Linked DNA regions of Homo sapiens. The protein of the gene in region 1 purifies or fractionates together with the protein of each later gene. This does not show direct contact. Each region holds a gene or a part of one and is shown in the gene's direction. Other genes may lie near its edges. The genes, in order: AHDC1, CBX1, TRIM68 and UBR3.

Region 1 (7,731 bases):
CACTCTTCAGGGGTTGCAAAGACCAGTAAGGGCATAAGCTTTGGGGGACCAGTGGCTACCAGCCCAAACCAGTGAGTTGTCCTTCTTCATCTGGCTTTGGGGCAGATGCCCAGGTGGGCAGGCATTGCCCCCTCCCCAGGAATCACCCACAAGCCCAAGGTGTAGTCTGGCCTTTCTAGTCTGGTCAGTGCCTAACTGTGCCCAAGCCCTCAGGAACGTTCCCCTGGTGGGCGCTCTCCTCCGCCTGGGCTCCCAGCCCACGTGCCGATATTTATTTTCTGTAGTAAAATCCATTTTTAATGCCGTTACTTTTGAAATAATATAGAGAGAAACAAATGTGATGTGTTTAAGTTGCCCTCTGTGAGTTTTTAATGTGATCTATGGCTGAGGTAGTGATGGAAGGAGCTGTTGGGCTTGGAGAAATTTGGTGTCATAAAGAAAAAGAGCTTGCTGTTTATTATTGTTGCTGGGCTGGGGGGTCTGGAACAGGGTCGTGGGGGCAGGGAGCCCCTACCACCCTCAGGCGCTGTGGGACAGCATAGCTTCTCAGTTTCAATGCGTGAGGGTTCTGGGGTTATTTTGCATTGCTCCCCAGCCCTTGATGGGGCCTTTGGGGAAGGGGTTTGGGAGCTGGGGGACTTTGTTACCCCCACTGCATGGGCTTAGATCTGGGCTGGGAGGCTTCTGGAACCCCCTGCTGAGCTAAGTGGAGGTGTACAGTAGGGAAGTTGGACTTGGATTCAAAAGGTTAAAAGATGGGGTCTCCACCTGATTGCTGTGGTTGTGCTGGAGGCTTGAGGGGCAGACTGCCCCTGGCAGAAGACATTTGGGTAGGGGGAGCTGTTCTGGACTGGCAGAGCCCCAGAGGGACATTGTTGTTCTCCAATCAGCCTGGAGCACTGACTTTGAACCACTCCCACCTCTATGCTTCTGTTCCCCATTGGACAGGGGCTTCCTCCAGGCAAACCTGATCTCCCTCATTTCCCCCTTCCCCTCTTCTGTCCCACCCCCAGGTCAATTTCAATTTTTTTTGTTTTTTTTTTTTGGTTTGTAGAACACAGAGCTCTGTGTCTCATGCCAGCCACCCAAGACCAGGGGGTGCCATGCCTGTGTACCAGATGCCCAGGCCCTTCTGGTCTGGCTTGGTGAGGTCAAGCAGACTCACTATTATGGGATGGAGCCCAGCTCTGTCTCTGGGTCCCCTGGGTCTCTTGGGACAGAGTGGGGAGGCGGAAGCCAGGATGGAGTGGAGCTGGGGACTATGGGAGGAAGCAAGGGTAACATTGTTGCTAATGCCTGCAGATGGGCCCCCCCCAGGGAGGGGGGCGGGGGAGCGACCCACAACCACATGCATGGTGAAGAGAGAGAAAGATGGAGACCAAAGCCAGTGATGAGAGTGAAAGAGAAAACAGGCAAGAAAATCTGGAATTACAGCCCCTGGAGGTGGGGGCCGGGGACCAAGAAGGCCTAGGAATATACCACTCCCCTCCCTGGAGCCAGAGAGGAGGCAGCCCTGAGGTCCTCTCACCCAAGATCAGATTCTGGGGTTGTTTTTGGAGGAGAGACAAGCAGATGTTTGGGAAGAGGGAGGAGGACAGGTGGGAGAGAGAGAGAGACTCTCACAGGAGGAGGGAGAATGGGGAGACAGATTCCAGGGTTTTCAACAAATGTTTCAGGTCCCAGGGTAGCATCTCCCTTCTGCCCTCCCCAAATGCCTGGAACAGAGCTGAGCTTTTCTTGGGACCCGGGGGGGCGTGGCCTGTGGCAGGTACTGCACCCTACAGGTTGTCAGGTGCTCTGTGCCAAAAGACACCCAGGTTATAAAAGCGGGAAACATTAGGGTCCCAGAGGTGCCAGGAGCATCATCCAGTTGGACGCCCCCCACTTGTTTGACGAGAGAAAGCCAAGTCTAGGGAGAGGAGCCACTTGCTCAGGGTCACAGATACCTTTGGCAAGACCAGGCTGGGACCTGGGCTGTTTGCACTCCACCTCACTGTAGTTAGAGAATTGGAACAGCTGCAGGGGGCCTCCTGGGAGTGGAGGGGGCCGGAGCCTGGGGAGAGAAGCAGGCAGGCACCCTTGTGGCCAGAGCCCCCCCAGGGGAGGGGGAGGCGCCGCTGCTGCCGGGAGAGAGAGGGAGGGAGGCGAGAGAGGAGGGGAAACAGTGAGTCAGGCTTCCAAGAGCTGAGGATGAGAGAGCCAGAGCTGGGAGGGAGAGGGCAGGGAGGGCTGCTCAGAAGGGAGGAGAGGGAGGGGGCCCAACCAGGGGCAAGGAGAGCTCGAGAGGGAGGGAGCCAGCCCCTGGCCCTGGCCCTGGCCCTGGCCCTGTGGTAGGGCTGTGTGGAGGGTGTAGCCAATATGGACTTTACCCATGGTAGGTCAGGAAGGAGCCTGATTCTGCCCCTGCAGCATCTCTTTCTTCTTTCCTCATTTATGATCCTACCCCAGGGTCTCAGGAGGGATGACTGTGTCCTCCCATCCCTTCCTCTTGGGCCTCAGTTTCCCCATCCATTGTGGGATTTGGACTGTGAGCTATTGGAGAGGGAGTGGGGGACAGGGACAGAGTAGCCAGGGAGAATGTTAAGGGATGCTGTCTGAAGCTGCTGGCTTTGTGACGGGGGCGCTGTCACCAGTGCAAGGTAGGGTGCTGGTCTCTGCGTTCATGTCATGACGGTGGATGCTGGTGTTGGGGGGCTTGGGCAGGCGGTGAGCACTGGGATGCACTGTATATATTTGTGTGTGAGGTGCTAGATTCAGGATGGCCAGTGCCTAGACAGGGCCAGGGTCACTACATGGCCAAAACCAGCCTCCACTGTTGTGGGGGTGACACTGGTGTGATCCCCCCACGTCCCTATGGGTAGATGGAGGTGGGAATGGCCCCAGTGCAGTTGGCAAGAACAACCCCTCATGCCTGGAACTGGGACCAGAGCAGGAGGGGTCCCCAGGGACTGCCTGGAAAGGAGGAGGGAAGGAGCCCCCCTCCAGCCCAGCTGACAGGAAGCCCTGGCTCCCAGCCCCTCCTTCGCCCAAGGCCTGGCCTCTCCTGGCCCCTCCCTCCTGGATCCCAGCATCTCTTCCATTGGCCAGGGGATGAGGAAGGTGGGCATCAAGGATCCCTCTCCTGCAGGGCCTGGCTCCGGGGGCAATGGTGAAGTGAGAGTAAAGTGAGGCCCTGCCTCCCTCCAGCCCCCTTCCAGCCCCCTCCACCACACACACAAACCCAACTGCAATGAGGCCCTGTTTTCTCTCCTCTTCTGCTCTGGGGTCCTTGGCCTGGGAGCCCAGGGGAGGGGCTGCTTCTGCAGCTGGCTGGCCCCGAACTCCCAATTCAGCCCAGCTGCCACTGAAGCTTCCAGAAGCTGCAGCTCTGCACCCCCTCCCCACCCCCTGAGCCAGGAGAGGCCTTGCTGACCTGGGGGAGGGTGCCTTGGGGAGCGAGTGGGCACCCTTGGAAGGACTAACACAGACAGCCAGACAGATGGGTGGTGAAACAGATGGACAGAGACACCCACACACAGACAGACGGAGAGAGACGGACAGATGGACTGGGACAGGGAGAGACGGACAGACAGAGGTGCTGGCAGAGAGAGGAGGAGGCAGAAAAATGGAAGACAGAGACTTAGAGAAAAGAAAGGAGACAGAGTGACTGAGATGGAGAAGGAGAGAGATGGGGAGGCTGAGAGACAGGAAGAGATAAAGAAAGGGGGAAACCCAGACAGACAGAGAGAGGGAGGGAGAGGGAGGGAGAAGACTGCAGGCTGCAAACCACAAACAGGGATTTGATGAGAATCTGGAAGGTGTTTTCTCCCTCTTCCCTCCCCAAACCCCCAGGCCAGCCAAGTCTCCATTCCTTCCACCCCCGGCTCAGTTTCCAGCTGCTAAAGAGGTCAGGGAGAAAGAGCAAGAGAGAGAAGCCGCCCAGAGCCCCTTGCTCCCTGCTCCTCTTTTCATAGGGGGAGGGGGTTGCTGAGAGGCCTGCAGCCCTGACCCCTGCACCAGATGCACATGTGCACCTCTCTTGTCTTGGGAAACACCCCCTCACATTCACCCGGGGGATGCCCCTCGTATAAACGCAGCCCCCACGGTCACACCTGTCTACACAGGCCCTGCGTCTCTCTCTCTCTCTCTCTCACACACACACTCTCACACTGTCACACACACACACACACACAAATTTGTGACATGTAAATCTCCACCCTCACACTCATTCTGCATCTCACGAACATAGCTGGTGAACACGCACCTGTGCTTCCTTCCCTGTACAGGTGTTGACTCACAGGCCCTGTCATGGGACACCCTCCTACATACAGTGGCAGTCACACCAGAGCACACAGAACCTCCCCCTGCCACCTGCCCCCCACCCCCATACTCTAACCCGGCTGGCAAGGTGGGGAGGCAGAAGGTCCTCTCAGTCGGTGAGAGCCCTTCTGGAAAGCTTCAGGGCCTGACCTGGACACAGAGAAATGCCCAGTGGCTTGGGTAGTGGGGAGCTGTCTCAAAGGTGGTGAGGCATATGTGTATAAACATGTGCTTGCATGTGCAGGTAGAAGGGATGGCGAGTGTCCTCATGGAGTGTGAGAGAGACTGGGTGTATGTGAGATAGGGTACGGGTGTGACAGGGAGCTCCAAGGTGTGTGGAGTGTGTGGGTGTGTGTGTGAGAGTGACTTGTCAGGTATGTATGTGTGGATGCACGTTTATGTGATAGGTGTGTGTGTAAGATGGGTGTGTGTAACTGTGGGTTTTGCAGGGTGGGGTATGTGTGATGGGGGTACATATATGAAGGTTTAAGGGCATGGGGCAAACTGCATGTGTGAGCGTGCAGTGGCAGGCATGCATGTGGGAAGGTGTATGAGTGCGTGTGAGTGTAGGGACTATGCAGATATGAGGGTGTAGTTCAGGTGTGAGGCTGGGAGCCTGTTGCCTGGATTGGAGCAGTGTTTTCCAAGGCCTGAGTGCTACCTGAACAGGAACATCCAGCACAAGCACGTGGGAAGGGGCCCCCGGCCTGGAAGTTGGGCACTGACCCACACAGATGCACAAGGACAGACATACCCGCCCCTGTCCTCCCTCTTCCTCTCTTCTGGCGTCAGTGGTTTTTAAAGGAGCCTCCGTGAGGACTGTTTGCTGTGCAGTTCCCCCACCCCCAGCCTGTGTCTCTTCAAACGCAGTGCTGCCCTCCAGGCAGCTTTGTGGAGGCTCCTGCCTCGACCATCTGAAGGCAGATGGGTGGGCTTGGATCCGCTGCTGCCCCCCAGGGAGCGAGGAGGCAGCTCTGCTCCTTGGGCCTGGGCACAGGCTGAGACAGATGGACTGCCTGTCTCAACACCCCCGCACAGGCACCCCATACCATAGGGGTTCTAGCGGGTAGCCCCCAGTTAGGCCCCGGAGCAAAGGCCAGGATGCTGCCCTTCATTCTCCCAGAGGGGCATCCCCCCTAACACACACAAACCCTGCAGCCCCATCACCTCTCTGGGGTCCAGGGACTCAGTTACAGCTCCCAACACCTTCTAAATAGACAACTGCCCCACATACACACTCACAGCTCTAACACCTCTAAAACACAACTGCTCCACCTACAACACCCAGCCCACACACTTCCACACACACACTCTACATACAGATACCCCCCGACATCCAGCTACCTCACATGCACATACCCCCAAACACACAACCACCACATGCTTACCCACAACCTGCAACACCTCCCTGACACCAGGAACCTGGTTACAGCCCTCATACCTGTGCATGCACGGACGATAGCCTGTGGCACATCTCTGATATCAGAGACCCATTCTTCCCTTCCCACGTATGGAGGGACCTCAGGTCTCTAACGCCTCCCCAGACCCTTGCAGGTACCCAATTAAAATCCCAATAACCTTTCCAGAGACACTCCCCAGCTCCTCCCCAAAACCACAGTGCATCCTCCACCAACCACAACACCTTTCCAGGCACATGTTCACAGCCCTAGTACTTAACCAAAACCCACATTTTTATGACCCCCCAATACATCCCTAAACACCCCAACACACACACAATCACACACACACACACACACAGCTATCACACCCTCAGCATATCAACCCCCTATCCAACCCCAACACTGCCAGATACACCCAGGACCCAGCTACAGCCCTGCTACCTTCCCACTGACTCATACCCTCAAAGCCCTGACACCTCCCCAGACACACACACTCTGCCCACAGCCCCCAACGTTTCTCCCAGCTATAGCTCAGCACTTCCCCAAACACCGGTATCATCCCCTATACCTTTCCAAACATACAGCCTCCCCCTACAACACACATACACTCACTGCTTCAAACACCCACTCAAACAAGAACACCCTCTGTAGCCACAACATTTGCCTCAAACACACAGACATGGCTTCGGTTCTAGTATATCTCTAACAGATCAGGCCCCGAAGCTTCTAATACCTCCTGAAACTTGTGCACACTGCCTCCTGGATCCCGGCACCTCCTCGACAGGCAGTCCTAATGGCCCGGCCCCACCGCTTCCCAGACAGTCTCAGCTCCGGTACTTTTCCTCAGCCACCTAAGGGCCCAGGGACACCCCTACACCTCTCCAAACACCCCGATACCACACCTGTACACAAAGACAGCCTCAGCTAGTCACAACCCTGCACCCATTCTGTGCTCCGCCTGCACCCCACGGCACCCTGTCACATACCCCGCCTAATCCTTCTGCAGCCCTCACTCCCACCGTTGGCACATTCCAGCACACCCTCTCCCCCACCTTGTTCCCCTAGACAGCCTCAGCCTGTCACACACATTGCTCACTCTTGTGTGCTCTCGCTCTCTCTCTCTCTGCTGCCCAGGCCTCCCGCTCTTCCCAGAGCCTCCTCTGCCTGGGGAGGCATCTCCACCCCTTCACCGCCCCAGGCCTTTCATTCCTGGACAGTGAGGCTGGACATCTGGTTCAAAGCTGCCCCACCCAAGACCCTGTGCTCTGGGCACCCTGGCCTGGGCTTAAAGGTTTGGGGCCTCTTTGGGGTGGGGGCAGAGCCCCTTGGCACCTGGTCATCCTGGTCTTTCAGCCAGGAACTCTCAGTACCCAGCCCTGCCCTGGCTCTGGCATGTATGTGGGAGAGAGGGACAGGGGGAGTTGCCCCCAGCCCACACTTTTTCAAGTGCTTGCCAAATCACTGCCTCCCTCCCCCAACCCCTTGGCTCACCTGAGAGGGACATGGGGCCTGGGGCTTCAGGGAGAGGGATGGGGAAGGTGCTGGATTGACATACTACCCCCCACCCCCAAATCCAGGCTGCGGGGCTTGGTCTCCCTGGGAGTCAGTTCCGACAGTGAAGGTTACTTTACTAGATGCATGATTTTAAACGGAATCTCCACCATCTGTTCCACCCCCTAATTACAGATGCACAGAATCCGCCTCAGAGGGCAGCATGAGGGGAGTGATTTAGAGGCTGAGCTGCTTCTGCCTGCATTAGGACTGGGGAGATAGGGGGGCTCTGGGTATTGCTCACAGCCCCCAAATCCCTTCTCTTTCCTAGAGGTCCCTCGTGCCTCCTCTCTTGCTGAGGGAAGGCTCACAGAAGGGCTCCACTGATCCCCAAGACCCTAAAGAAGAAGCAACTGCAGTGCTGTGGGAAGGGTCCCCAAGACATCGCCTGTGTCCCAGCCCAGCAAGTCCTGGGATGCAGGCTCCATTAGGGCCTTAAAAAATTCAGTGAATCGATCTCCTGCCTGCCTCTTGTGCCCTG
Region 2 (6,883 bases), on another chromosome or scaffold:
GAGACTCCGTCTCAAAAAAAAAAAAAAAAAAAAAAAAGAATGGTATACAGGACAAAGGCAGTGATGGCCCTCTCCACCTTGAAACACACATATAAGAGCCAGAATTTACTAACACAATAAATATGATACATCTGAAACTGTTGCCCTGTAATGTACAGTTTAGGAAAATGATGACATTTAAATAGAGACCTCAGGGAACATGATGGCTGAACTTCAATATTAGAAGAAACATATGAAAGAAAGATAAGGCTTACTGTGTGGCTACAGATGCCAGAATTAGGGAAAATAGGTGGCATCTCCATGGGGAGCAGAATTCAGCTCAATACAAGGAATTAGGGATGGCAGCATTTTATGTAGACAGAAATATGGTTTGGGTGTTAGATAGAAATGAGATTAAATCAATCAAGAATTTATGGCCAGGCATGGTGGCTCACATCTGTAATCCCAGCACTTTGGGAGGCCGAGACAGGTCAAGGCCTGCTTGAGCCCAGGCGTTCCAGACCAACCTGGACAATGTGACAAGACTCTGGCTCTACAAAATAGAAAAAATTAGCTGAGTAAGGTGTGGCTCAAAGCTACTCAGGAGGCTGAGGGGGAAAGATGACTTGGGCCTGGGAAGTTGAGACTACAGTGAACCGTGATTGCACTACTGCACTTCAGCCTAGGAGAGAGAGTAACATCCTGTCTCAAAAAAAAAAAAAAAAAAAAATAGGCCGGGTGTGGTGGCTCACACTTGTAACGCCAGCACTTTGGGAGGCTGCAACGGGGGGATCACAAGGTTAGGAGTTCAAGACCAGCCTGAAAACACAGTGAAAACCCGTCTCTACTAAAAATACAAAAATTAAGGCTGGGTGCGGTGGCTCACACCTGTAATCCCAGCACTTTGGTAGGCGGAGGCAGTGGGACCACTTGAGGTCAGGAGTTCAAGACCAGTCTGGCCAACATGGTGAAACCTCCCTCTACTAAAATTACAAAAATTAGCCAGGCACGGTGGCGGGCGACTGTAAACCCAACTACTCAGGAGACTGAGGCTGGATAATTGCTTGAACCCGGGAGGTGGAGGTTGCAGTGAGCCGAGATCTCACCACTGCCCTCCAGCCTGGGTGACAGAGCAAGACTCAGTCTCGGGAAACAAAAAAATTAGCTGGGCATGGTGGTGGGCACCTGTAATCCCAGCTACTCGGGAGACCAAGGCTGGATAATTGCTTGAACCTGGGAGGTGGAGGTTGCAGTGAACCGGATCATGCCACTGCACTCCAGCCTGGGTGACAGAGTTAGACTCCGTCTCAAAAAATAATAATAATAATAAATAAATAAAATAAAATAAAAAATAAACCAGAAGTGGTGGCTCACGCCTGTAATCTTAGCACTTTGGGCGGGTGGATGCCTGAACTCAGGAGTTCAAGACCAGCCTGGGCAACATGGTGAAACCCCCGTCTCTACTAAAATACAAAAAAATTAGCTGTGCATGGTGGCATGCACTTGTAATCCCAGTTACTTGGGAGGCTGAGGCAGGAGAAGTGCATGAACCCGGGAGGCGGAGGTTGCAGTGAGCCGTGATCTTGCCATTGCACTCCAGCCTGGGCGACAGTGCAAGACTCCACCTCAGGGAAAAAAAACAAAAAAAGCACTCATTAATAGTAGCTAATTATCATTACAACTAATTTTCTCATCATCATCAGTCAAAAACAGTACACTACAGGAGGAAGTGAGGAGATGCTTGCTTCTCACTTGCTTCTTCCTAGAAACCCAGCCCAAATGTTTCAGGAAGAATTGCTCTCTTTGTGTCCGGAGTTGATTCCTTCCGGTGGGTTTGTGGTCTCCCTGACTTAAACAATGAAGCCGCGGACCTTCATGGTGTTAAAAACAGCTCTTAAAGCTGGCAGGGACCCAAAGAGTGAGCAGCAGCAAGATTTGTTGTGAAGAGCGAAAGAACGCGAAAGAACAAGGCTTCCATAGCGTGGAAACCGACCTGAGCAGGTTGCTGCTGCGGGCTAACAGGAATGGGTGGGGGGCAGGGGGCCAGCTTTTACACCCTTGTTTGTCCCTGCCCATTTGCTATTTCTGTCCTATCAGAGTGCCCTTTTTTCAATCCTCCCTGTGATTGGCTACTTTTAGATTCCTGCATTTTACAGAGCGCTGATTGGTGCATTTTGCAGAGTGCTGATTGGTGCATTTTACAATCCTCTTGCTAGCTACAGAGGGCTGATTGGTGTGTTTTTACAGAGTGCTGATTGGTATATTTTACAATCCCCTTGCTAGGTATAGAGCGCTGATTGGTGCATTTCACAATCCTCTTGTAAGACAGAAAAGTTCTCCAAGTCCCCACTCGACCCAGGAAGTCCAGCTGGCTTCACCTCTCATCTTCTCTGTGCTTTCTTGAAGCCCTTTTAACTAAACTCTATTATGATATTGCTGGGCTGGGTTTTTCTTACATGACAGTTCTCCAGAGCCGTGAACAGTGCCTGCATCAGCAAAACTGTCTTATAAATGCAAACTCCTGCCCTGAACAGTGCCTGCATCAGCAAAACTGTCTTATAAATGCAAACTCTTGCCTTTTGGGGTAGAGTGCAATAGAGTTTCCCTCTTCCTCCTGATTAGAAGGATACTTTAAAATAAAAAAATAAAACTTTAGTTATATTGTGGCTTAAAAACATGTTTTTTTCCTAATTGTGTGTTTCCTTGGGATGATTGGGTGAAAGGTGCTGACGGAGATTAATGACACTGAAAAAGGTGAGCACAACTTACAATGAAAAAGAGGACATTTTTGTGGCGCAGCCAGTGAAAAGGGGGAAATTCAGGAAGCTATGAGAGGCCTATGGGGGGACCTAACCTACTCTAGGGAATCAGGGAAGACCTCAAAGGGGAAGTAATCTTAACACTGAACAGTATTTTTTTTTTTAGACGAAGTTTCGCTCTTGTTGCCCAGGCTGGAGTGCAATGGCGCGATCTCGGCTCACTGTAACCTCCACCTCCTGGGTTCAAGCGATTCTCCTCCCTCAGCCTCCCGAGTAGCTGGCACTACAGGCGCCCGCCACGACGCCCAGCTAATTTTTGTATTTTAGTAGAGATGGGGTTTCACCATGTTGGCCAGGCTGGTCTTGAAACCCTGACCTCAAGTGATCCACCCACCTCCGCCTCCCCAAGTGTTGGGATTATAGGCTTGAGCCACCGTGCCGGCGTGAGTAGGAATTTTACAGAGATTTGAGGAGGCAGAGATTGAGGACTAAGAAATCATTGGAAATTTGAGGCAGCGGCGATATGATAAAGTTCTGGTGAAGAATCTAAGATTCAAAAATTTTGAGGATGTGAATTACAGAACTGTCCAGAAGTGGTTGATTTTTTGGGGGCCAAGCATCAGGGGGCTCGCTTATAAAAATCATATGTTCTAATTTTTTTTTTTTTTTTTTTTTGAGATGGAGTCTCGCTCCATCGCCCAGGCTGGATCGCAGTGGCTGGATCTCGGCTCACTGCAAGCTCCGCCTCCCAAGTTCAAGCAATTCTTGTCTCAGCCTCCTGAGTAGCTGGGACTACAGGCACCTGCCACCACGCTCGGCTAATTTTTGCATTTTTAGTAGAGACAGGGTTTCACCTTGTTGGTAAGACTGGTCTCGAACCCCTGACCTCAGGTGATCCACCCGCCTCGGCCTCCCAAAGTGCTGGGATGACAGGCGTGAGCGACTGCCCCTGGCCCATATGTTCTAATATTCTAGGTTACAACGCTCTACGCTGCAATCTCTCCACCGTTACAGTTTAAAAACTATAAGTCCCTACCACCCTCGCCTACTGTGCGTGCGCGGCGCGCGGCGCTTCGGGCCTTGTAGTCTTGGACAGACCCCCGAGGCCCATGGTGCCGTGCGGCGGGTCGTTGCGCCTGCGCGGTGCGAGCGGCGGGCAGCGCAGACTGCGAGGCTCTTTTGTTCGGCTGAGGGGAGGGCCGTTGGCCGGGGCCTGCGGTACGCCGCTTCAGTGAGGGACGCCACTGCGGCCACCCGGCTTGCTGCCTTCCTGGGCGCCACTCCCCCAGGCGACCCGACGCGACGCGCCAGCAGCGCAGCACCGATTCCTCTCGGGCTCTTGGGCGCTGCTCTGAGGTGAGGAGCCCGCTGGAGGCGGGAGAGCTGGGGGAGGGGGCGCGGCGGCGGCGGCGGCGGGAGCCCTGCGTGAGGGAACGCGCTTTCGAGGCGGAGGTTAGGAGCGGGGAGCGCGCCCGGGTCCAGCGTCCTGCTTCTCCGCTTCCCGCGCTGAGCTCTTCGCCTGTCGCTGAGGCGTCGGTGCCAGCTGCGTGAAGGATGGAGAGGGCGGGGCGCGAATCCTGAGCCAGAGACTGAGTGCTTGGGGGTGGGCCGAGCACTTGGGGGCCGCTCTTCGGGGCCCGGGTGGTCTGGAACAATGTTGCTTGGCTGGGCGGCTGCGGGATAGGGCGGAAGGGGACAGGCTTGAGGCTTGGATAGGCGTGAGGAGGCGCATACGACCGCACAACCCGAGGTTTGTAACTGTATTCGGAAGACGCCGGGTCCGGCTGGGACTGCCAGAGGAACCTGGCTTTGCAGGACTACGGAGGAGTAACGTCGAGTGAATTGGAAGAGGGCCCAGGGCCGCACAAGGTGTGCTGATTGGAGGAGGAGATGTGTGGAATAAATTGGGAAAGGGGACACGGAGGGGGAGGGGCAGGCGTTTGCTGGGCCTGACTCTGGAAGGGGAGGAGCTGTTAGGATAAGTAGGGCGGAGATCCCGAGAATATTTCTATAAGGTATGTAAGAAAAAAGGGGAAAGCAGGCCGCCCTTGCATCCTGATGGGTCCTTACAGTGGGGAGGCTGTAAGAATAATGTGCGAAGAAAGGATGGAATACGCTTTTTTCAGTTTTCCAGGTTTCCTACTACCTTCACTCCATGATTCCTTTGGGGAGTTAAAAAAGTCCAAGTGCAGTTCTTGCTTTGATTCAAAATTAGTTCCGTACGTTTTTGTGTGGGATCGTAACTGGTCTCACAAAGGTGATGAAATTGTAAAAATATGTAGATGAGTTAATAGTTGAGGAACGGCGTGAGGTAGTGAGAGATTGTGAGATCGTGTGAGGTGCGAGAAATTGGGAGACATAGGAAAATTATGTGAGATTGTGAGGTAATATTTGTTTCGTGGGCCCTTCTGTTTTTAGCCAGCTTTTCCTTGTTGGAAAATTTGAATAGAGTGAGCTATATTTTACCTCTTTTTTTTTTTTTTTTTGAGAAGAGTCTTCCTCTGTTGCCCAGGCTGGAGTGCAGTGGTGCGATCTTGGCTCACTGCAACCTCCACCTCCCGGATTCATGCGATTCTCTTGCCTCAGCCTCCCGACTAGCTGGGATTACAGGCACACGCCACCACGCCCGGCTAATTTTTGTATTTTTAGTAGAGACGGGGTTTCACCGTACTGGTCACGCTGGTCTCGAACTCCTGACCTCGTGATCCTCCCGCGTCGGCCTCCCAAAGTGCTGGGATTATAGGCGTGAGCCACTGCGCCTGGCCATATTTTACCTCTTTTTCAAAGTTTCAAATGAGGGTTTTTCATAAATTGGTGTTACATTTAGACGTGTTGGTTTAACGCAATTGAGGTGGAATTTACAAAAAGTTCAGCTATAATCAGTTATATACTAGAACCCCTAGCCCAGGGTAAAGTAGCCTCCTCAATTGTGTTAAGAGTCACATCAGCAGTTTGGAAAGATTGTGAAAGGTCCAAGGCTTTGGAATAGATTCAGGAATACAATGGGGAAATTAATGCCGGTGTTCCTCCCTAGGTGCCTTATAGACTTTTATATGAAAGTGGTGTGATTGAAAAGCACTTGTATTGAAACCGGTGGCACCTTAATGAAGCTTCACGGGAGTGGAGGACCTGAAGTCGTTTACGGTTTTCCCTGTGGTGATATTTTTCTTCAATGGCTGCTGTATCCTAAATTGTTTCTCATTAAAAAAATAAATAGTAGGGTCGGGCGCAGTGGCTCAAGCCTGTCATCCCAGCACTTTGGGAGTCTGAGGTGGGCGGATCATGAGGTCAAGAGATCGAGACCATCCTGGCCAACCAACATGGTGAAACCCTGTCTCTACTAAAAATACAAAATTAGCTGGGCCTAGTGGCGCATGCCTGTAGTCCCAGCTACTCGGGAGGCTGAGGCAGGAGAATCGCTTGAACCCGGGAGGCAGAGGTTGCAGTGAGCCGAGATCTGCACCACTGCACTCCAGCCCGGGCAACAGAGCGAGACTCTGTCTCAAAAAAAAGAAAAGATAGATGATAGGTAGATAGATGGTGTGTGAAATAAATAGTTTTGAATGTAAATAGAAGCCTAGTGGTAAGTAAGTTACCCTGGTCTTCTGCATTTCTGAATACAGGATACCTATAACTTACAAACTATACCTCTAAAGAAAGATAGCACTCATTCTTGTGCCCATTTTAAGGACTAGGAAAATGTTTCTCTTTGTTGTTCACACCATTTGAAAATAATTCATTAAATTTTGGCATCCTCTAGTGGTTTATCTAGCAAAACCTCCCTTTTTTAAAAAAAAATCCTATCTGCAGTGGTGTAAGAGATTTTGCATTAGATTTGGTAGATTTTCACTTCATAGGTTCTTTCCACGAAGAGTTTCTGGTGTAGAAGGCTAATTGCTAGTTTATGGGCTCCCATAAAATGGAGCCATACTGGCCCCATCTCTACTAAAAATACAAAATTAGCTGGGCGTGGTGGTGCACACCTGTAATCCCAGCTACTTGGGAGGCTGAGGCAGGAGAATCGTTTGAACCCGGGAGGCAGAGGTTGCCATGAGCCGAGATCGCGCTATTGCACTCCAGCCTGGGCAACAAGAGCGAAACTCTGTCTCAAAAAAAGAAAAATGAAAAAATGGGGACGCACCTCT
Region 3 (8,109 bases), on another chromosome or scaffold:
GGTATATCCTGAGTTAATTTCCGGGCTCTAGACACCAAACGATAGACACCAACTGACAAATAAAACAGTTCTGAAAACCTGAAACCATCAATCCTGTTTTTTCCCCTTGTGTTTCCTTTCTGGTCTCTCCCCAGAGAGCATTATAATTCTCTTTAAGGACTGTGGCCAGTGATGGCAATGTGGATCTAAATTTCTCTTTGACTAGGGAATGAGCTATTATACTATGTGGTAGCCATGTTTTGTTCTGAGGACTTACTTGTGTTTTCCAAGTTTTTGTGAATGTAGAGCTTGTGCTTGTGGTGGGTATTTGTCATTCACTGTAGCTGGCACTTGAGTGCTCTTCCTATGTTTGACCAATTTTCCTTTTCTTGGGGCGTCTACTTCTCCCAAAGAAAAGCCATAGAAGTCACCTTCCTACCTAATTAATCAGCTTTCATACCATGACAGAAAATCCAAAATCTCAGGGGCATACAACAAATGTTTTCACTCACACGTCATGTCCTTGGCTGCAGATAGGTTGCTAGGATCCCAGTCCACATGTCTTTGCATCCAGGACTCAAGCTGAAGCAGGAGCCCCTCTTTGTGATATGCCTTTATTGTGACAATGAGAAAACAACAAAAGGTGGTACAAACATGAAATGTCTCTTAGAGCTTCTCTATGGAACTGAAACACTTCCCTCCATTCCTATTTCAACGACCCAAGATGGTCATATAGCCAAGTCTCATAATGTCCTAGAAAGCATTCTCCAGCTATCGGGAAGCACTGTGAGTCATGAGGCAATGGATGAGATTGTATGTCCCCCTCACAAAAAGGGAGAAAATAGATGGGAATAATCACCCACCATGGGAGAAGGCATTTTGTCTAAGTGCTGTCAATCATGCACACCTCCAGGAAGCCAATTCAGAAGCTAGGAAAATAAAAGCAAAATGCCACATTGAATCATTCTGGTGAAGAGTGCTGACAGAAGAGTAAATCTTCCAGAGATATCAGAGGCAGAGATTCTAGTGTCAGTCTCTGCACCCAGGTTTAGGAGTGAGATCCTAGTTGACTATGCTCAATGGAGCCAGTAGTGGTAGTTCCATCAGAGTGGACCTATGGGGTAATTTGATGATGTTCCTGCATACATCATCAATGGACTACCAAATGTTCTTTAATAAGTCCTTTTTATGCTTAAAATAGGTTTCTGGCATTTTCAACTCTTGTTTTTAGTAGGCATTTTGATTGACTGGCTCTTCTCTCAGTTGTCTGCTATTCACGTGGCAATGAGTTAGGCCAAATCCCTACAAACACATTTTACACTCTGATAAGAAGACTATATAATTTAGTATTTTCCACTATAGAGAATATGCCTTCTCTTCCAGTACCTTCTGAACAATTATATAATGCAATTATATAGTTGGCCACAAAACAGTTTCCCAAATGATAAGTTATAATGGCATTTTTTAAACTCTTATTGCATTGTGGTTATAAAATGCTAACAAACCTAAATAAATTATATATATAGAGAGAGAATTTCAATTTAATTAAGTAATTTCAAGAGAAAAGCAAATTTGAAACTGTGCTTAATAATTTTTTTAATAACAAATGATAACGAAAGCACCAAGATGATTTATGGTATATAGCCTGACTTATATTTAGGGAAAACTTTACACTCCTCAATCAATGCAAGAAGCAAGAAAAATAAGACAATAAATATAAGTAAAATAAATCAAGAAAAAATAATAAAGATAAAATCAGAAAAAAATTGAAATAACAAATTAACAGGTTCTTTGAAAGGAACAATCAATTAGACAGATCTTTGGAAAGAAAGATATGTCACTCAGAAAAAAAAACATAAAGTAGTGGTAAATATATAATATCAGGGATTAGAATCAAGAAAAAAACTCAAAGTAATGGCAAATAAAAATAAAAATAATTATTTGTGTAATTGTTCATAACCATGGAGACACTGATACTTTGAGAATAGTAACTTACTGAAACAGATTCGACATTTAAAGAACTTGAATTAGACATCAAATACAAGGACATATAAAGCTACTTCTTCTTGTTTTAATCTAATGCAACTCTGATATCAAAACTAATAACAGCATTTGGCTTGTTCTGCTTCCCACTGTACAAAAGTCTTACTGTTAGTTGTGTGTCACTATTAACAATTGCTATTGTAATATACATCTATATTCTGATATATACCTTTTTATTTAGTTATTTATGTCTCTCTGTCTCATGCACACACACACACACACACACACACACATATGCTGCCATTTTCCTGTCCATGGCATCTCACACTGAAACTGCCCCACCACATCCTTGCTAGATCTTCCTATTACTGTTCCTTTCGTCTGCTTCTGAAATTGTTCTCTCTTTTCTACTTCCTGCTTCTTAATTTTTTGGAACACTTAAACTCTAATATAAAATCTAGGTGACAGCCTCAACCCAGAAGCACTTTCAGAAAGGCTCTCCACCACCTGTAGACAGAATTCTATGTTTTAATTTCTAGACTCACTTCCCCTTCCATCCCTGACCTCCTTCCTCTGCCAAAGTGAAAGTGGTAACGAAGTCCTGCAGATTTTCCCCTCTAGGCAGGAATTTCCTCTCTCTTAGCCAAGGCTAGCACTGAGTAGATAGGGACGGGAGGCCCTAATCTCCTACTTGGACTCCTGGGAGATGTCAGTTTTGCCTTCTGGAAACTGAAAACAATCTGGAATAGAGGAAACAGGAGGTATTAACTCCATCATAAGAGGTCCAGTAGGAGACTTTCAAGGTGGAGCGGGGTATCTACTCATGGTCTAGGCTATACTCCTACCCTCCTCCTTCCACCCCTAGCAGGTTCTCCTGCTGACTGACACACCACTAACACAGACAGCTATTTCTTCCCCTTTAAAGCCTTCAAGACTAAGATTATATTCTCATCAAGCCTAAGATTATACAAAACTAACTGAGGGTGTGGCTCATGCTTCCTCAGAAAGAGTAAGAGAAGAAAATAAATTAGGGGTCTCTAAGCAAGCATGTTGTATGACATGCAATAAGGTCAGTCTCTGGTCTCTTTCCAGAAAACCAGGCCTCAGATTTGTACTAACCCCCTAACTCTTCCTTAGTCCTACTTCTTCAGTGCCCCAAACAGTTCTCAGTTCTTGCTTCTCCTTTGATGCTACTCCTCCCCTAGAGCACAGATGGACACCATCCTACAGTTAGCCACTCATCTTGTTGTCCTGGTCTATCCTGGATTCAGGGCAGAGGGTTGGGGTCTGCAGCTACAGCTGTGGAATTTGTCCACGACAGAGCCTCACCTGGACACACCTGTCTCACAGCAAACAAATAAAGAAACAAACAAAACATTCTGAAGACATCTGTAAAGGAAAGCTTCTATGCCTTGGAAGTAAACTGGTCTGTCTTCAAAAGCCCTCTCTCCAGCCTTCCCCACATGAACGCAAGCCCCCACCCCCAGCTACCCTGATTGCCAGGGTTCTTGACAGTCCGTCATAGTTACAAATTGCACCTTACACATGAAAATGATCTCCCCATTAACTGTTTTAACTTCACAGAGATTCCAGAGCAGTACAACCAACTTGACCTTCAGCTCCTTAAAGGCAGAGACTATATGTCCCATAGTTGTAATCCCAGCACCCAGTAAAATATTGTCAAGAAAATTGATGTTAAATAAATGTTTAAAATGGCTTATTTCAATTAATCCATTCATTATTCTATTAGAGCAGCCATTTCTCCAAAACTGGGTGAGACAGAGGGTACAGCTCAGACCTAAGATACTTTTGTTTTTTCTCATAGACCTATTTGTTGCAGGAAATTTCTGGGCCTCACCCTTCAGAATTTTAACCATGGCCGGGGCTCAGACACTGGCATGAGCATTCTGGAGTATCTGTCCTAACAATTAAGATATTATATAATTTGGAACCGAGCTTCAATTGGAAGATTTCCTGGTTATTTTCTATGCGGATAGGAGGTGCCTTCACTTGCTTATTAAAACCTAAGTGTCAAGAGAAGGACAAGGCCCTGGGAGTACAAAGAAAAACCCATATCACTGTCTTAAGTAACAGTTTTTGTGTGTGCGTGCATGTGTCTATGTGTTTGGGTGAGGAAGGGATACCAGTTGTTTAATTTTTTTTTCCTTTTTTAATGACAATTTTTGACCAGGGTTTCCATTTCTCCATCAACTCCCGGTCTCTGTTGTCTGTTTTTCACTCTAAAAGTGGATTGTGGCAATAGTGATGACAAGCTGGTTGCTGAAGTAAAAACGAAAAAAGAGAGGGTTTTGTTTTGTTTTGTTTTGTTTTGTTTAAGAACCCAGTATTTAAAGCCTGGAACCATGAGAGGTCGCGAATCTTGCCAGGAACAGCAGAGTCCACACCATATGTGCGCCCAACCCTTTGCTAAGATGGGTCACAGAACCAGACTTGGCCAATCTCAGGCTTCTGAGTTTAACAAGTCAAACTGGCAAATGAATAGCCACCTGAGCCTCTCTTAATGCAGTGCCTGAGCGGCATCATTTGGGAGCCTCAATCCTTTGACCTATCCTAGAACTAACTCCTAGAACCCTCTACAGTTTAAGGGAATCTGAGTCGGTGAAGGGACCAGAAAAACCCAGGAAGTAGAGAAAAAACATTGACATGCCTAGAAGCGCCGAAACCCCCGTCTCATCACCAATTGGCTAGGGGTACCCTGGTCCCTGCCTGTGATTGGCTGCCCCCACAAACACACCGCCCCCTGGGCGAAGCCAACCTGGGCCCAGCCGGCCGCTCATTGGCTGCCGTCCCGCGAGCGGGGCCTAGAGCCGGGTGTAGTATTCTGGGAGCTGCGGGCTACTGGGCCTGCGCTGCCGGGCTTTGGGTTCTGGGCCTCTGCCGCTCTCTGGCCCTAAGTGCTGAGCTGCCGGGAACGGCAGCTTCTGACGCTGGGCCATTGGACGCTGCGGAACCAGGCTTCTTCACTTTGAGTTTCCGCCGCGAAGCGCCAGTCCGGGCCGAGGAGGGAGGTGGGTAGATAACTCTGCCTTTTCTGAAGTCAGATCCCGCACGCTCACTTTACCCCCACCCGCCCGCTGTCCTGGGGACCTGCCCAACGCCCTGTGGCCAGGCCAGGAGCTGCTCCCTGACTCCGGAGGTTACCGCCCGCCCCTCGACTCCCTTCCCGCTGGGGTCCTAACTGGAAGTCTTCCAGGCCCCGCCCCCTTCTCAAATGCCCTTCTCAGACTCTCGCTGTACCCTACGGAAGGCACAGTCAAAGCAACCGAACGTTTAATTATTTGAATTTTCTCAAAGTAATTCATGTATAATAAAAAGTCAAACATTAAAGCAGGTCTTATTTTGAAGAGCAGTAACTACCCATCCCCAGATCTTTGCAGAGGCTGCCACTTTTAGTTTGTCCCCATTTAGATGTTTTTAGCACCCTAAATCAAAATAATATGCGTTCCACTGTATTTCTGGATTTATCATTTTGATATTTCTTTGCCTTACTTTCTTACTGCCACAATCTTGTCAATTTTCCATCGCTATTTTAGGTCTTCCATTTGTAGCTTTAAATAATGGGTATCAACTTCCATTTATTGTTTTATTGACTTTAGATGGTGTCTCTTAATGTCTCTACTGACTTAGCTAAGGATATTAACACATCCTCCACTTTCAATCTACTATCGGTTGGAACTCAACATTTACATTTAGTTTTCACGTATTCAACAAGTATTTGAGGCACTGTTCTTGGCACTGGGGAAATAGAAATGGACAAAACAGACAATGACCCTATCCACATGAAAAAGTTCTAGTATGGGAAGTAAGACAATAGACGAATACATGGCAAATGACGTCAAAGGCAGGATCATGTAGAAGTCATTTTCAGCTGGGAGAATAGCAGGCACCCAAGTCAGGTAGATTGAATGGACGAGGGGTTTGCGGGAGTGTGTGGAAGTTTATTCCTTTGCCTAGCTGGGCACAGGTGCTGTTTCAAGGAGAGATCTTGTTAACCGGGAGCCAGGATAGATTATTTAGTAAGTTAGTGATTTACCAAAATGAGGTTTTAGGATACTGGATCCCACAGTTTGGTAGTGATAGTGGGAGGAAGAAAAGCAGGAGGCAGGGAGTCTAGTGAGAAGGCATGCCCTGCCAATGGCATATCAGAGTCCTGCAAGATTTACTGCTCTGCTTCCTGCTTCCTGCTACTGGACTGCGCTAAACCACAGTGATTTTTCTCTCCTCTTGAATTTGTATTATACCTTAAAGCTAAAGAGGTTAAGAAATTTGCCCAAGATAGATGGCAGAGCCCCAAGCCAAACATCTGTAAAATGAGAACAATAATGGCCTCTGCCTAGGGTTGTGAAATAAACCAACTTAATTCATGTAAAGTGCTCAGAACAGTGCCTGGCACATCATAGAACTGCTCAAAGAGTGCTTGCTTTTATTATTAATGTATGCTCTCAATTTACCTCACAAATGCTAAAAGGATTTTGGGTTTAGGAACTATTTCCTATGTCTAGCTGGTTAATTCATTCAACAAATATTTACTCAGCAATATCTGCATTGCAGGTGCTGTTTAGGTGCTGAGGATACAACAGGAACTAGGATCAACATGTCCCTTCCTTGTATAGATTCTAGCTGGTAACACAAACTAGCAAAGTGAATGAATAAATATTGCCAACTGAGCCAAGAGCCTGCCATTGACCAAGTTCCATGCCCATATGTGGCCCTGGCAAAAATCTCAGATTTCTTGCTGGTGTAGTGATTTCATCAATATGGGTGTGATGATCATCAAATGATCTTTGTTTTAATCTCCAAGGGATGTTATTTCATCTCTGCTTCTAGCATATCACTAAAAGCTCAGAAGACTACCTTGACATCTTGGTGAATAATAAGTACATTAGTGCTGGAGCAGTGGGCAGGGGTTTAAAAGGCACAGGAAAAGAACTGCTGTTTCCTTTACAGTTTTTGCATTTTAGTGTGCAACACAAGAAAACAAATTGAGCTTGTAGGCAATGGGCTTCTGGCATACTACCTTTTGACACTTTGAATTATATTAATGTAAATATAAACATACCAGAGAGTGAGGCTGGAGGTATTTATGGCCTTACTTCAGATACTGAAATACCACATTTTATGTGAACTTACCCAAGTTTAAGAGAAATAATGCTGATTTGTAGAGCATGATTGGAGTGGTAATGGTCAAGTAGAGCAAACCCAGAGGAAAATCAGAGTTGACCAAGTGAATGAAAACCGAGGACTCCCAATATTCACTCACTTAGGCATCCCCATTATCCCCTTCATGGTATGAGTAATGTGGCCCGTTCAGACCATGCACCCTTCAGTTGGAAAGGCCAATGCTTATTAAAGAAGGTCAGTAAAGGGTCAAAAGGAAGGTGGTTTTCCCCCAGAAATTAATTATTCCTGTTACTGATCTCTCTGTTCCTCTGTTACCTTTTTCTCTTATTTGTCTTTCTTTTCTTCTTCTCAGCCTTTACTACTTCTCCCTGGTTTCATTCATGTTCTGAGGAGGGTGTGAGAAGGAACCATGGATCCCACAGCCTTGGTGGAAGCCATTGTGGAAGAAGTGGCCTGTCCCATCTGTATGACCTTCCTGAGGGAGCCCATGAGCATTGACTGTGGCCACAGCTTCTGCCACAGCTGTCTCTCTGGACTCTGGGAGATCCCAGGAGAATCCCAGAACTGGGGTTACACCTGTCCCCTCTGTCGAGCTCCTGTCCAGCCAAGGAACCTGCGGCCTAATTGGCAGCTGGCCAATGTTGTAGAAAAAGTCCGTCTGCTAAGGCTACATCCAGGAATGGGGCTGAAGGGTGACCTGTGTGAGCGCCATGGGGAAAAGCTGAAGATGTTCTGCAAAGAGGATGTCTTGATAATGTGTGAGGCCTGCAGCCAGTCCCCAGAGCATGAGGCCCACAGTGTTGTGCCAATGGAGGATGTTGCCTGGGAGTACAAGGTGAGAGATGGAAGCTGGCCACTCCAGTCTAACCCCGGCCCCAAGTTGGCTGTTTCTAGATCAAGGGCTTGACCACCAGCACCACAGACTGAGAGCTAACTCCTTTGGTTCCTGACACCCAGAGATCCCTGGAATCTGATACAGAGAGCTATACCTTTCCTTGTATTCAT
Region 4 (7,731 bases), on another chromosome or scaffold:
GGGAAAGTGAGAATTTTAATTTTGAACATCAAAGGGACAATAAAAAATTAATATTTCAGATGAATGTGTCAGACTAGGTTTCATTTTTAAAACATTGGAGTGAATAATAAAAGATAAGCATAAGTTATAAATGTCTCTGCTTTTGTTCTTTTCCATTTTTTGCTGAAATCCTTAAAAAGATGCTATCTCATTTTATACCCTTTTTTTAAAAAAAAAGGGAAATTCAAGTTAATTGAATCTTGCATATTACATATACAAATATCTTCCTGTCTAGTAATTTCTTTATTCACAGAGCATATAGCAATAATTTGACATCATACTTTGATGTCTGAAAACCTATGCAGGATGACATGGAGTAAGAGGGGTATAATTGTAGAACCAAGGCAGGGAAAAAAGTGATGAGCACACCCAGAGTTTGTCTTCATATGAGCCATAGGTTAAAATCAAGCCTACATTTTAGATGAATGATTATTGTATGTATGCTGATGGAAAATAAGAATTTTTCATTTTAAAATATTTAATCTTTTCATATAATTAGGTGATAATTATTGTAGAGGCAGTGTAGTAGACATTTGATTAATTTATTAATTTATGCTAATGCAGAATTTTTGCCAGTTATGTAAGTACACCACCATTTGACCTGTATTCCCCCTTGTGTCCCTGCTCCACTCTTGTGTTCCTAACCCTGATCCTGACCCTAGGTCAACCAGATTCTCTTTCTCAGGAATGTTAAATCTGTATAGCGAGACTTAGCAGGGTAAATGGTGACAGGAGCTGTATAGTCCAACAGTACTACCCTTGAAAAACTGTCTGTGAATTACTACTTCTGAATTTTTTTATCAGTTAAGATTCTTTGTTTGGGAACAACAAAATCCAGTTCTGATTTAAAATAAGGAAAACCAAAGCAAACTATGACAGAAAAAAAAAAAAAAACAGGATTCATTGGAAGCATACTTGGTAACCTGCAGAATTGAAGAGCTTAACTGTCATCGCTTGGGAAGAAGAGAAACCACAAATATCTCTGCTCTGTTTTCTCTGAAGTGCTGCCACCAGATAACTAAGCCTCAACCATTTTCCTTCCTTTAATTTGCATGCTCAAGGTTCAGATTCCTGGGAGAGAGAATCTGGTTGGCCTAACTGTTGTAATACATATACCCCAGTGGTGGGGCAGGATCTTGTGTTGGGGACAGCCCCATCAGAACTGTACGGAGCAAGAAAAGGGGTTATTTTCTAAAAGAACTTATAATGTTATTAATATAAGAAAGCAGCAAAGGATGCTAGGAGGATTTAAAAAACAAACTAGTGGCCCACTACTTTCACATCTTACCTGCCTGGCTCATACACACCCTTCTTCTCATTCACAGTTTCACTTCTGCTGTTGAAAATGATGTAACCATTTTACTTATGACTGCAAATGCATCTGTGACTTTCCCAAATAAGCAACCTGATGTCACATATAGTCCTTACATCATCAGGCCTCTCTGCATCCAGTAGCTCTGAGAGATGTCCATTGTTCCTGTCATTTGTACTCACACCCAGATGGCCTGGAAAATTTTAATTAGTACCTGCTCACCCTGAATTCAATAGTAAGAGAATGAAAATGTTGCAAAGATATATGATACAGTAAGCAAGATTTGCAAGTAGTCATAAAGCTGCAGCTAATATACAGTCAAATATATATGACTTTCTTCTTTTACCATCCGTGATCCAGCACACCTCAACGGATGATTGGATTTGTTTGAGCAAGGATGTGATACCAAACTTTATTCTGAAAGGGCTGAGCTTCTGGTGATTGGTCCTGTCTTTGTTTCTATAAGGCTGTAATCATTCTGTGTTAAATTTCTGCCTTTCAAGCTTGGTCTATGGTAGGGGTGGTGGTAGGGGTTTTTAAGTTCCAAAATATTGCTCTACCAATTGTATGGCAATATTTTTATTCTTCTTGATAGTCATGGTCAATCCCTCCAGGCAATGCGATAAGCCACCCTTGTGATGTTATAAACCGTACTAGAGGTTAGACAGTACATAGCTTGTAAATCCGCAGAAGAGTCCGGAATAGCAGTGAAGCAGAAATTTAAGACCGAATTTTTTTTTCCATTTTAATGTTTACAATTTAATAAATCTCTTGATTGCAGACATGTAAGGCTGTTTGGTAGTATTCAGAAACATCACAGTAATGGCAGTTTTTTCAGTTGGTGTGTAGTCTTCAATAAATATCTATGAAAGTGCTGTCAGACCAGTAAGACTGCATTTATACATCCATCATTTTCAGGATTGTTGGTAACCACAGCCTATTTTCCCCAAATAACCTTGCCTCCTTGTGTCACAAGGCCCAACTCACATTCACCTCAGTAACAGTACCTTTGGTAATAACATCCAAAGTTATATACATTGGGAATGAGGGACTCTTCTTTACACCAAGTATTGTTAGGCAAAAGGTGGCTTTCAGTTCAGGATGTGTTACATGGGCTTTCTTGAAACGCAAGCCCATTGGCCTGATGAATCTTCCATAGATAAGTAGTTTTCTTGTAAAGCCATCTCCAACAAAGCAGACTTTAGTAACCATCCTCCTCTATGCCTGCGTCTTTCTCTTTCCTGTTGGAATAACTTTGAGACAGAGTCTCACTCTGTTGCCCAGGCTTGAGTGCAGTAGAGCGATCTTGGCTTACTGCAACCTCAGCCTCCTGGGTTCAAGTGATTTTCCTGCCTCAGCCTCCTGAGTAGCTGGGATTACAGGCGCCTGCCACTATGCCCAGCTAATTTTTGTATTTTTAGTAAAGACAGGGTTTCACCATGTTGCCCAGGCTGGTCTTGAACTCCTGACCTCAAATGATCTGCCTACCTTGGCCTCCCAAAGTTCTGGGATTACAGGCATGAGCCACTGCACCTGGCTCTGTTCAAATAACTCTTAACACTTCTGTATCTCCCTGGGCAAGTTACATTTAGACAGAGGGACTTTCCATTTTCCTGCTTTCTCTTTTCATTTCGGCTTAATCATACTGGGAAGTACGTTAGCTTGAGGTTGTCCCTCTCTGTCCAGCAGATAGGCAGGTACTGCTCCCTGTGGAGTCTTTCTTTTGTCTGGTGTTTCTCTTTTCATGCATCTTGATGGTCTTTTTCATTTGTATTTTCTCAGCATGGTGCTGTTTAAGATAAAGCTTAGCCTTCAGACCAATCATTTTCTTTGACTTCTTTGAATGTTCATAAGCCTCTCAACTTTCCTTCTTTCCCTTTTTCTCATGGTAATCCAAATGATATCCATGGCATTTACAGTGTAATTCAATATATTTGATCTGTGGCATGGCACAGGCGCAGCCCCTGGGGTGCGAAAATGCTCTCAATTTTTGGGTCTCAGAGACCCACGAGTGAACTCCACACAGGCCGCAACAGGAAAGGCAAGACCGAATTTTAGGTGTAATCATGAGAGGTGTTACAGCTGTTAAATACTTTCCACCTCTTGTTTCCCATACATATGCATTCCAATTGTGAAAAAGGTCACCCATATATACTGGTTGCTGTTTAGAGCATACACATTCTGTAGGTGATTTCTTCCAGCTGGTGCCATCTAAAAGTTTGTAAATTTCATGAATTTCATAATTTTTGTGGCACTGAAAAAATCAGTTTTGTAGTTCATGATTTAAAATACCACAGCTTTTTTCAGATGATTGAATATATGTTAAGATCAGTGAATTCCATGGACATCCACCTGTTGCCTTACATCTCTCTTCATGAGGGAAATTATTGGAGGTAATGTGCTATGGGCTACTGGATAACATGCAGCCTAACCTATAATAAGTGTCAAGTTCAGTGAGGACAAATTGTTATCCCTTCCCTTTAATGGAAGGGTTCCACTGTAATCAACTCATTACAGAATGCCATCCTTGGAGTCCAGGGTTGGGTGCTGAGTATTGGCAAATGATGTATTGTATACTGTTCTTATCATTGCTTCCATGGACACTTAATCCATGAACTTGTTGATGAGGAACAAGCTAGCTTAGTTACTCCACTGATTTAGGTGGATTATGGCTGCATGTAGGTAATGTGAGATGATCTCCATTTAAATTGACTATTACTTACAGTTTCTTAAGATAATAGACTCACTCTACATTTTATCTTTTTTAAGTGTGAATGGAGTAGCATCTAGAAAAATTTAGTGCTGCTGCCAGTATTTTTATACAGCTGCAAATAGTTAATAAAGCATACCCTTCAGGGAAATTTAACTAATTTGACAATTTTTTTATTCTTATAGCAAGACATTTATGAAAAGAATTGTAGCCCAGCACTTATGGATATAAAAGATCTTAACAGCTTGAGGTGCAATGAATTGTACATACTCTAGGAAAGCAATTCTACATTATAAAGTATTAAAGTAGAAAAAATGAGTTATAACCATGATCTGTCCTAAAGAAAAAGCTAAAGAATTGTTTGAGAATGATCAAAACTTGGTTTTAAAAAATACGTAACTTTTAAAAACCTTTGCACTATGCATGTTTAAAGTCAAATACAATTAGATGTATTTTCCCTGCATGCTTAGAGATGGTGTTTTTCTTTTAAAGTAATAACAAGTTTAAATGTTTTAAGGTGCTTAATCTAAAAAATTAAATCATACTGTAATTGGAAACTATAATACATTAGATAATGGTAACTGTTGAACTACTATTTTAGTCATGTATAAGATGGAAATGAGAGGAGTGTTAATAAAGAAAATAAGCCACATTCTTGGAGGCAGATTTTTCTTTCTGTAAAAATACATTTAAAAAATATATTGTGTTAGTGACTTAAATACATAAAACTAATGAATATTTTTGGATAATGTTTTAGGCCTTGCTTATCCAAGAGTCAAAATGGAAATTACCACACCTACTACAGTTGCCTGAGAATTATAACACCATTTTTCAGTACTACCACAGAAAAACCTGTAGTGTCTGCACCAAGGTTCCTAAAGATCCTGCTGTTTGCCTTGTGTGTGGTACTTTTGTATGCCTGAAAGGACTTTGCTGCAAGCAACAAAGTTACTGTGAATGTGTACTGGTAAGCAATAGTAGATAATACAAAATTTATGAAAACACAGATCTCATATCACAAAATATGGTCAAGCCATCTCTTCATATTAACTACTCTTTGAATTAAGTATATAATACATATAGGGATTGTGTGTGTTTTTTAATCCAGTAGAAGAGTAAAAAAAGAAAGTCTTTGAGGCTTTAAGTGAGTAAATCCTTCCTTAAGTACAATTCTAGTTCTCCTTTCATCTACTATCCCTTTAATGGTATGTACTTTGGAATGTGCTGTGAAACAGAAGTCATCTGTGCTGTTGAAGATACTAGACTCTGAATTAGGTTGGCTCTTAATTGCTTTACTAGATATTCCTTACCCAAATACCTCCTAATGTATTAATAATAAAGTGTTAGGAATGGAGTTATAAGTTTAACTTAAATGAAATCTTACTATTTTTAAATCACTGTATTATTTAGAAGGCATTAATATATTCTTGATTTTATTATAAAGCCTATTTGATTATGAAGTTCATTAATATATTTTTAATTTTTTAGCACTCTCAGAACTGTGGTGCAGGAACAGGTATTTTCCTTTTGATCAATGCATCGGTAATTATCATCATTCGAGGTCACCGCTTCTGCCTCTGGGGTTCCGTGTATTTGGATGCTCATGGAGAGGAAGACCGGGATCTTAGGTTAGATGTTCATGGATATATCCAGGTGTTTTATTGAAATTTGGTCAGTGAAAACCAATATGCTATTCCTGGCTTTGTAATTACAATTTTTTTAATATTAAGAAATTCTGACAGTCATTAATTTAGAGCTATTTCTAGTTTTTGAGCTATTGTCCCTATCAATACGTTGAGGAAACATGAAATACACCAAATTACCATGTGAGGTTTTTGCCACAAAGAATCCGTTGGCCAGGCCCAGTGGCTCACACCTGTAATCTCAGCACTTTGGGAGGCTGAAGCAGGATTGCTTGAGCCCAGGAGTTTGAGACCAGCCTGGACAACATAGTGAGACCTCATCTCTACAAAAAAATAAAAATAAATAAGCCAGGTGTGGTGGTCATACACCTGTGGTCCCAGCAACTCGGGAGGAGGTGGAAGGATCGCTTGAGCCCAGCAGGTGGCGGCTGCAGTGAGCTGTGATCGTGCCACTGCACACCAACCTGGGCAACAGAGAAAGACTGTCTCAAAAAAGAATCTAGTAAAAAAAGAAATGTGGTAGGTGTGGTGGCTCACGCCTGTAATCCCAGCACTTTGGGAGGCCGAGGTGGGTGGATCACTTGAGGTCAGGAGTTCGAGACCAGGCTGGCCAATATGGTGAAACCCCGTCTCTACTAAAAATACAAAAAATTAGCCGGGTGTGGTGGCGGGCCCCTATAGTCCCAGCTACTCTAGAGGCTGAGGCAGGAGAATGGCATGAACTCGGGAGGCGGAGCTTGCAGTGAGCCAAGATCGTGCCACTGCACTCCAGCCTGGGTGACAGAGTGGGACTCCGTCTCAAAAAAGAAATAAGTAAATAAAAAATAAAAAAATAAAAAAAGGAGGCAGGCATGGTGGTGAGCACCTGTAATCCCAGCTACTCGAGAGGCTGAGACAGGAGAATTGCTTGAACCCAGGAGGCGGAGGTTGCACTGCGAGAGACTGTCTCAGAAAAAAAAGAAGAAAGAAATGCATGTGAAATCTTCCGTGTATGATATTAATACTTTTTTTTTCTTTTTGTTCTAGGCGAGGCAAACCTCTCTACATTTGTAAGGAAAGATACAAAGTTCTTGAGCAACAGTGGATTTCTCATACTTTTGATCACATCAATAAAAGATGGGGTCCACATTACAATGGGCTGTGACTCTCCACCTCAGCATTGCATCGTATCATCATTTTCGCTACGAATTTATTTTTCAACAATAAGCTTTAACTTAATTTGGGGGATTAACACTTTTGCTGAGGGAGAAAAAGAAAACATACATTATGAAGCCTTTCCAAAATTAGGTGCTTGGTAATCACGTTAATGGTATAATTTTTTTTTTTTAATATCTGGAGAACATTAATAACAAGTTAAATTATTCTTTAGTGGTCATTTTTTAAGTGCACAATTAATAAGAAGCACAACTTGTTCACAAACTCATTCAGAAATGATTCTCCCAACAATGCGTATCAGCTATTCATTGATACTTAGAGTGGGTGTGATTTATTTGACATTTTACTGCTTCTTTCTGTCTGTGTGTTTTAATTTGCATCTGCCAAGCATAATGCATCTTTTTTCCTCTGCCATTCTTGTGTTGATTGGAGAATTTTTCTGTATGTAATTAGAAAAAAATGTAAAACATGATTTATGTGAAATACTGTATAGTAAAAGTTGGTCTAATAGTAGAACTTTAAAATTTTTTCTTATTGTGAGGAATCTGTTAAAAGTTTAAAGCTTTGCTGAAAACTGAATTCATTCTCAGGAATTTCATAAATCTTCTCCCCAGGTAAATAATTGAAATAGCTGTAAAATAAGTAGATAGCTGCTGTTAATATAATACAGTACATTTTGGGGGGCATATGTGTGGTTGGGGGGTCCTTAAAAATCAAAATTTGCCATTTCAGTTGGATGAATTACTAGAGGTAATAACAAATCTTACTATGAAATCAAGAGGTTTAAGAACATACACTGGGCAGATGTTGATTCCGTGCATGCCCACCTTTTATTACCAAACAAGGTTTTGTTTATATGATTGTATTAGAAA

The links.
Region 2: the proteins of AHDC1 (region 1) and CBX1 purify together in Homo sapiens (affinity purification with mass spectrometry; 4 studies listed by BioGRID and IntAct, with this or other methods). This does not show direct contact.
Region 3: the proteins of AHDC1 (region 1) and TRIM68 purify together in Homo sapiens (affinity purification with mass spectrometry; 2 studies listed by BioGRID and IntAct, with this or other methods). This does not show direct contact.
Region 4: the proteins of AHDC1 (region 1) and UBR3 purify together in Homo sapiens (affinity purification with mass spectrometry; 3 studies listed by BioGRID and IntAct, with this or other methods). This does not show direct contact.

The regions. Positions count from the first base shown.
Region 1 is NC_000001.11:27,593,777-27,601,507, reverse strand, and holds part of AHDC1 (transcription factor Gibbin), read left to right. Parts: intron 1-5,426; exon of another isoform or gene 5,427-7,731. UniProt on the Homo sapiens protein: Transcription factor required for the proper patterning of the epidermis, which plays a key role in early epithelial morphogenesis. Directly binds promoter and enhancer regions and acts by maintaining local enhancer-promoter chromatin architecture.
Region 2 is NC_000017.11:48,098,479-48,105,361, reverse strand, and holds the start of CBX1 (chromobox protein homolog 1), read left to right. Parts: upstream 1-3,883; 5' UTR 3,884-4,094; intron 4,095-4,175; exon of another isoform or gene 4,176-4,607; intron 4,608-6,883. UniProt on the Homo sapiens protein: Component of heterochromatin. Recognizes and binds histone H3 tails methylated at 'Lys-9', leading to epigenetic repression. Interaction with lamin B receptor (LBR) can contribute to the association of the heterochromatin with the inner nuclear membrane.
Region 3 is NC_000011.10:4,604,909-4,613,017, reverse strand, and holds the start of TRIM68 (E3 ubiquitin-protein ligase TRIM68), read left to right. Parts: upstream 1-4,786; 5' UTR 4,787-4,991; intron 4,992-7,456; 5' UTR 7,457-7,513; coding exon 7,514-7,939; intron 7,940-8,109. UniProt on the Homo sapiens protein: Functions as a ubiquitin E3 ligase. Acts as a coactivator of androgen receptor (AR) depending on its ubiquitin ligase activity.
Region 4 is NC_000002.12:170,074,996-170,082,726, forward strand, and holds part of UBR3 (E3 ubiquitin-protein ligase UBR3), read left to right. Parts: intron 1-2,472; exon of another isoform or gene 2,473-2,608; intron 2,609-2,906; exon of another isoform or gene 2,907-3,392; intron 3,393-4,818; coding exon 4,819-5,028; intron 5,029-5,549; coding exon 5,550-5,689; intron 5,690-6,730; coding exon 6,731-6,848; 3' UTR 6,849-7,731. UniProt on the Homo sapiens protein: E3 ubiquitin-protein ligase which is a component of the N-end rule pathway. Does not bind to proteins bearing specific N-terminal residues that are destabilizing according to the N-end rule, leading to their ubiquitination and subsequent degradation.